2 linked regions of the Homo sapiens genome follow. The protein of the gene in region 1 interacts with the protein of each later gene in a pairwise test. Each region holds a gene or a part of one and is shown on either strand. Other genes may lie near its edges.

The links.
Region 2: the proteins of ZNF282 (region 1) and MAPKAPK5 interact in a two-hybrid assay, tested with the Homo sapiens proteins (one large-scale study listed by BioGRID and IntAct).

Annotation. Positions count from the first base shown.
Region 1 is NC_000007.14:149,198,382-149,202,201, forward strand, and holds part of ZNF282 (zinc finger protein 282), read left to right. Parts: coding exon 1-371; intron 372-3,820.
Region 2 is NC_000012.12:111,897,601-111,901,420, forward strand, and holds part of MAPKAPK5 (MAP kinase-activated protein kinase 5), read left to right. Parts: 3' UTR 1-3,820. UniProt on the Homo sapiens protein: Tumor suppressor serine/threonine-protein kinase involved in mTORC1 signaling and post-transcriptional regulation. Phosphorylates FOXO3, ERK3/MAPK6, ERK4/MAPK4, HSP27/HSPB1, p53/TP53 and RHEB.

The sequences.
Region 1 (3,820 bases):
CACCCTTTCCAGATAGGGCACCTGTCTTCCCCGACCGCATGATGCGAGAGCCCCAGTTGCCCACAGCAGAGATCTCACTCTGGACTGTGGTGGCTGCCATTCAGGCTGTGGAGAGGAAGGTGGATGCCCAGGCCAGCCAGCTGCTGAACCTGGAGGGGCGCACGGGGACAGCCGAGAAGAAGCTGGCCGACTGTGAAAAGACGGCCGTGGAATTTGGGAACCACATGGAGAGCAAGTGGGCCGTGCTGGGGACCCTGCTGCAGGAGTACGGGCTGCTGCAGAGGCGGCTGGAGAACTTGGAGAACTTGCTGCGCAACAGGAACTTCTGGGTCCTGCGGCTGCCCCCGGGCAGCAAGGGGGAGGCCCCCAAGGTATGTGGTGGTCCCTGGGGCAGGGATAGAGGTGAGGAACAGCACAGGTGCATAAAATTCTTGATTTCATTTTGTCAGCCCTTCTCATAAACTTCTCTGGCTCCCCGTTATCCAATTTCAGTGTCTTCTTAAAGCCTGTCTCCACTGAAACAACCTGGTCTTGGACGTTCTACCCCAGCAAGGCTCACTCCATTCATTCCCCACAGTCTGCATTTCTGTCTGGGAGCCTTTGCTCTCGCTGTTCCTAGACCCCTCTGAGTTGTCTGGTTGTCTGCAAGTTCTTGCAGCTCTTCACTCCTTGGTTTTCCCACTTGACACCTACCAGCGATCATGTGTCATTGGCTGTCTTGGTATATGCTCACCGGAATGTGGCTGGAGTCGCACCTCAAACCAGGCTGCCTGGAGTTGCTTTCAAGTCGTAGTCACTTATCTCAGGGGGGCCCTTCTTAAAGTTCAGAATGCACACTCCGTATCTTACTCCGTTCCCTCTCCTGCTTTCCTCCCGGATCCTCAATGCTGCTTTTCAGTTCACTGAGAGAACGGAGTCACCCAGAAGAGGCGTCCACATGCAGCCAGCTTGTTCTTCCATCTGCTGCTCGGTGGCCACAGACTCTGCTTTCCCTTGTTCCTGTGGCTTGATGTCCCCTGCCCACCCCAGGAGGTCACCCCCAGCGTCTCTCTCCTTTCTCCTCTGAGTCATCAGCTCTCCCCCCTCTGCTGGGCTATTCCCACCAGCATGTGACTGTTCTGTCCTGCTGTCCGTCTTTAACAGAAAACCTCCCTGGGCCCTGCATCTACCTGCATTGGTGCCTCATTTCTCCACTCCTCTTTAGAGCAGAACCCCTTGAAAGAGTTGTCTATACTTGTTGTCTCCAATTCTTTCTTCCCCATTTTCTCTCCTTCCCTCCCTTTTCCCCTTCTCTTTATTATAGAATATTCAAATAAAAATAGACAGAATAGTATAATGGGTCCCCATGTATCCAAATTCCAGCTGCATTAGCTGCTAACTCTTGGCCAGTCTTGTTTCACCTAAATCCCTGCCCACTTCCCCACTCCCATTTTATTTTGAAGCAAACCCCAGACATTAGTCATTTCCTTTGCAAATATGTCAGTATTAGCTCAAAAGGTAAAGACTCTTTTTTTTTTAAGTGATAATCTCAATGTTATTACCACCACCACCATAGTAAAAGCTTCAGCCTAGATCACTGTCTAGCCAGTGATTAGATTTTCAGTTGTTTCAATTTTTAAAAACATTTTTTTAGTTTGAATTAGGATTCAAGTAATGTCCACACATTATGTTTGAGATGTCTCTTAAGTCTTTTTTAATCTGCGGGCATCTCTTCCATCTATTATTTTTCCTTTCAGTTTATCTGGAAGGAATTGGGCCACCTGTCCTGTTTTGCATCTCGCTGTCTGGATTCCACTGATTACGTCCCCTGTGGTCTCATTTAACATGTTCCTCTATTCTCAGTATTCCAGTTGATTGGTAACTGGATCTTTCTCTCTGGAACGCACTCTGATCAGGCCTTTGCTCACTAATGATGTCCGTGGTGTTACAGCCAGTGGTTGCTTCTCAGTCTTCATCCTCCCTGTCCTGTCAGCAGCATTGTGTGTAGGTGACCACTCTCTCCGTGAAACCCCTTGCCGTGGCTTCTGGGACACCTCTCTCTGCTGAGTCTTTTCCTACCTCACCAGCTGCTGTGTCTCATTGTTTGCCAATTTTGCCTCCTTTGGCCAGCTTTCTAATGCATGGAGTGGGCCAGACCTCTGTCTTGGCCTTTTGCTCTTTATTTACTCTCCTCCCTCATGACTGCATCCCGTCTCACAGTCTTTATTATTTATTTATTTATTTATTTTTTTTGAGACAGAGTCCCGCTCTGTTGCCCAGACTGGAGTGCAGTGACGTGATCTTGGCTCACTGCAACCTCTGCCTCCAGGGTTCAAGTGATTCTCCTGCCTCAGCTGCCCTAGTAGGTGGGATTACAGGCATCTGCCACCATGCCCACCTAATTTTTTGTATTTTTAGGGGAGACGGGGTTTCACCATGTTGGCCAGGCTGGTCTCGAACTCCTGACCTCAGGTGATCCACCTGCCTGGGCCTCCCAAAGTGCTGAGGTTACAGGCGTGAGCCACCACGCCCAGCTAGTCTCACATTATTAAAAGCAATCTGTATGCTCTCACCTCCCAAATAGATGCTTTCTCTCCCCTGCTCCCTTTCTATATGTTGCCCAGCTTTCTTTCTGGAATGCCAGATTCACATTCCTACCTATTAATTCATTTGGATGTCAGTAAATCTTAGATTTAACATGTCCAAAGTGAACTGCGGATCGCCTGCCTGAGACCTGTTCTACCTGAAGTTGTCCTCATCTCCGTTGATGACGGATGGTTCCATCCTTTCAAGTGCTCAGGCCAAAGCCTTGGAGTCATACTTGTCTCCTCTCTTTCTCACACCCTACTTCCAATCTATTAGTAAATACCCTGATTTTTCTTCAGAATATATCCACAACCTGGCCACTCCTCACCACCTCCACTCCCATCGCCATCGTCTGGTCCCAGGCACCATGGTCTTTCATCTGATTTTTGCCATGGCCTCCTGGTGGGTCTCATTGTCTTCATCCTTGTCCCCCCACCCATACAGTCTATCTCAACACAGCAGCCAGAGTGATCCTTTGAAAATGTGAAGCAGTCACATCACACCTCTGCTTAAACCTCCCAAATGGCTGGGCACGGTGGCTCACGCCCATAATCCCAGCACTTTGGAAGGCCGGGCAGGTGGGTCATGTGAGATCAGGAGTTCAAGACCAGCCTGGCCAACATGGTGAAACCCCATCTCTACTAAAAATACAAAAATTAGCTGGGCATGGTGGCAGGCACCTGTAATCCCAGCTACTCAGGAGGCTGAGGCAGGAGAATTGCTTGAACCTGGGAGGCAGAGGCTGCAGTGAGCTGAGATCTTACCACTGCACTCCAGCCTGGGTGACAGAGTGAGAATCTGTCTTAAAAAAAACCCAAAAAACACCTCCCAAATGGCTTCCCATCTGATTAGAATAAAAGCCCATGTCTGTTTATGGCCCACGCTCTCTTCCCCTGCCTCTCTGACCTCCTCTGCATCCACTCCCTCCTGCTCACTCCCATCTGTGCTGTTCTGCCAGCACACCACGTGCGCCCCCAGCTCAGGGACTCTCCACTGAGAAGCTCCTGCCCTGAATATCTGCATGGCCGTCCTCGCCACCTCTTCCATCAGGGTCTGCTGAGGTGCCACTTCATCAGCATGCCCTTCTACAACCATCCTATATGAAAGAACCACGTCCCCCAAGCACACTCGTCTCCCTGCCCTTACTCGAATTTTCTACAAAGCACTTTTGCCATTGACATCTTAAATATTTAAGATATGCTTCTTTTTTTTTTTTTTTTTTTTGAGACAGAGTCTTGCCCAGGCTGGAGGGCAG
Region 2 (3,820 bases), on another chromosome or scaffold:
AGAAGCTTTGCGCTTACATAAATCACAAGAAATACAGCTGGAAATCATTTCACTTTTCTTGCTGTAAATTTTTTTAGTGGGTTTGTGACAGTATAAATTTTCTTGCTAGATGCTAATGATACATTGTATTATCTGTATTAGGAATTAAATATTTAATAGGAATAGTGAATAAATTGATCTGCTCTCATGCTGTTATCTAAGATCTTATGCTACCATTACATTCCTTTCTGTAGTCGTATCTCATATTTGAAAGGTCTCATGTTGTAAATATTTGACTTGCTGTAAAATTATACAAGATAAAAAATGTAGAGTTTTATTTTTCTTCATCTAGAATGCACAGAATAACTGCGTAAGGAATGGGTGCATAGGGCTTCTTTTCCTTTTAAATTTGTACTGCTAAATACACCAAGGAAATTGACATCAAAACCAAATTCAAGGACTTCCACAGACATTTCAGGTCAATTTTAGTTCCAAACCGAAGAAATCTTTTAAAAGTTCTTATATAGCCCAGTTTTCTTTTCTTGATGAAATGTTAACTAGACACCTGGTTAGTCAGCTTTTATTTTGACCCCACAGTTTTTTTTTTGAGACGGATTCTCACTCTGTTGCCCAGGTTGGAGTGCAATGGTGTGATCTCGGCTTACTGCAACCTACGCCTCCTGGGTTCAAGCGATTCTCCTGCCTCACCTTCCTGAGTAGCTGAGATTACAGGCGCCTGCCACCACGCCCCGCTAATTTTTGCATTTTTAGTAGGGACAGGGTTTCACCATGCTGGCCAGGCTGGTCTCGAACTCCCGACCTCAGGTGATCCGCCTGCCTCGGCCTCCCAAAGTGCTGGGATTACAGGGGTGAGCCACCGTGCCCGGGCCCCACACTTTGTTTTTATGTTAGGGCAGTTGGAGGAACTGAACTTTGATCCTGATCCTTTATATACTCCCATGGTGAAACTTGAGCCCATTTTACTTAACACAATATATCCGTGCATTAGGAAAACTTGGTAGAGAAGATTATATGCAGATATAAAATATCTAAACTCATTTGTTATGAACCAACGATAATGAGGGAAAACTTGGACATCCACATACAGATTTTCTTGAATTAAAGAAAAAAACCAGACACTGACAAAGGAGAGCTGAACTGATAAATGGTACCCTGAAAACTGCAGAAATGAGGGAAAGAGGCAGTGGGCCACAAAGAACTTTGTCCTTTTCAGAGATCCCCAGAGAAGCCCTGCCCCCTTCCCCCCACCCCCTGACAGAATGTTGTGTTTCAAAGAATGAGCAGATTAATGGATATCAAGTTGTGTGGCCTGAGCTGAGGATAAAGAATAATTTGCCTGAGGAGTTACAGTACTGGCTGGATCACTACAGGCCTTCTACTTGGAATATCTTCCCATGAAAGTAAAAGGAATATAACTAAGGAAGATTAAAGTTGTTGCTGTTGGAAGGAAGACATACTAAAGAAACTGCCGAAGGCCAGGAGAGAAGCAGGAAGAGAAACACGGCTTGAAGTTCTGTAAGAATCAGAGTTGGGCAAGAACTGCCAATAAGGGAGCCAGCGTAGATCTGAGTACTAAACACCTGAGCCTCCGAGGGTTTGTGTGCGAGGGAGAGCTCTGCTGATGGACATAGGCCCAGAATCATTAACTGATTTATTTGGGCCATGTCACTGGTGGCATTATTAAAAGACTCTGCCAACATCCTGCTTTATGGAAAAACCAAGTGGCCTTGGAAGAGGCTAAGATAAAGTTTCAAACTTGGGCTCCACAGAAGTGGAACTTAAGGCTGGGGCTAGTACCAGGACCTTCATGTATCAGGTTAGAGATTTTGATGCTTTTGGTGATTTTTGTGCCAAGCATGTACTGTCACCTGGGATCAATCTATTACTCTTTCTATGAAATAATTATTCCAAAGAGGCTGACAGTCCAGGGAGGAGATAGCCCAGTGGAAGGACTGTCCTACTTGTTACTTATGCAAGGCCAGAAGCACCTGGTTCATCTGAAGGTGAAGAGAAACCATTTTGTGAATAACTTTCCAGTCTACAGTTACCACAATGGCCTCCTGGGGCAAGAATCGCCTTTCATCTCACATGACTGCCACTATGAAGGCTACATAGAAGGAGTGTCAGGTTCTTTTGTTTCTGTCAACATCTGTGCAGGTCTCAGGGGCACATCCTCCTGATTAAGGAGGAAAAATCTTACAGCATTGAGCCCATGGACTCTTCAAGACGGTTTGAACATGTGTTATACACCATGGCACATCAAGCGTGAGTCTCCTGTGGTGTCTACTAGCTGGCAACAAGGGAGCAGGAAGCCTCATGATCTACAGGCACTGTCCTACTTGTGGTCACACAAAAAGTACGTGGAGATGTTTGTCGTGGTCAACAACCAGCGGTTCCAGATGTGGGGCAGTAACGTCAATGAGACGGTCCAGACAGTAGTGGATGTCATTGCTCTGGCCAACAGCTTCACTAGGGGAATAAACACAGAGGTGGTGCTGGCTGGAATGGAGATTTGGACCGAGGGGGACCTAATAGATGTCACAGTGGACTTGCAAATCACACTCAGGAATTTCAATCACTGGAGACAAGAGATGCTCTTCCATCGTGCAAAACACGATGTTGCCCACATGATCGTTGGGCATCACCCTGGACAGAATATGGGCCAGGCCTTTCTCAGTGGTGCCTGCTCAAGCGGTTTTGCGGCAGCTGTTGAATCCTTCCATCATGAAGATGTGCTGTTGTTTGCAGCCCTGATGGCCCATGAGCTCGGGCACAACCTGGGTATTCAGCACGACCACTCGGCCTGCTTTTGTAAAGATAAGCACTTTTGCCTCATGCATGAAAATATCACAAAAGAAAGTGGCTTCAGCAGCTGCAGCTCTGACTACTTCTACCAGTTCCTTCGAGAACACAAAGGGGCCTGCCTATTTAACAAGCCACGGCCCAGGGGCCGCAAGCGTAGGGATTCTGCCTGTGGAAATGGTGTGGTGGAGGACACGGAGCAGTGTGACTGTGGTTCTCTATGTCAGCATCATGCATGCTGTGATGAAAACTGTATACTGAAGGCGAAAGCAGAGTGCAGTGATGGTCCATGTTGTCATAAGTGTAAATTTCACCGTAAGGGATATCCTTGCTGTCCTTCTAGTCGTTCCTGTGATCTCCCAGAATTTTGCAATGGTACATCTGCATTATGCCCCAACAACAGGCATAAGCAAGATGGCTCAAAATGTCATACAATTTACGAGTGCCTTAAAGTTCATTGTATGGACCCTAATAATCAGTGCTTACAATTATATGGATATGGTGCAAAATCAGCCTCACAAGAGTGTTACAATTCAATGAACAGCAAAGGGGACCAATTTGGAAACTGTGGCATTTCTACCAGTCCTGGGTCACAATATGTTCGGTGTTCAGATGGTAATATATTTTGTGGGAAACTTATATGTTCAGGTATTACAGGCTTACCAAAAATCAATCTCCAACATACAATGATTCAGGTCCCTCAGGGAGATGGCTCATGTTGGAGCATGGATGCCTATATGAGTACTGACATTCCTGATGAAGGAGATGTGCACAATGGCACTTACTGTGCACCAAACAAAGTCTGCCTGAATTCCGCCTGCACAGATAAAACCCCAGTGATTTCTGCCTGCAACCCAGAAAAAACGTGTAATGGGAAGGGAGTTTGTAATGATTTAGGGCACTGCCACTGTAATGAAGGGCATGCCCCCCCTGACTGTGTTACTGCAGGAAGTGGAGGTAGTGTGGACAGTGGCCCTCCTGGTAAGCTAGGTGGGACACCTTCAGGAGAAGGTGAAAA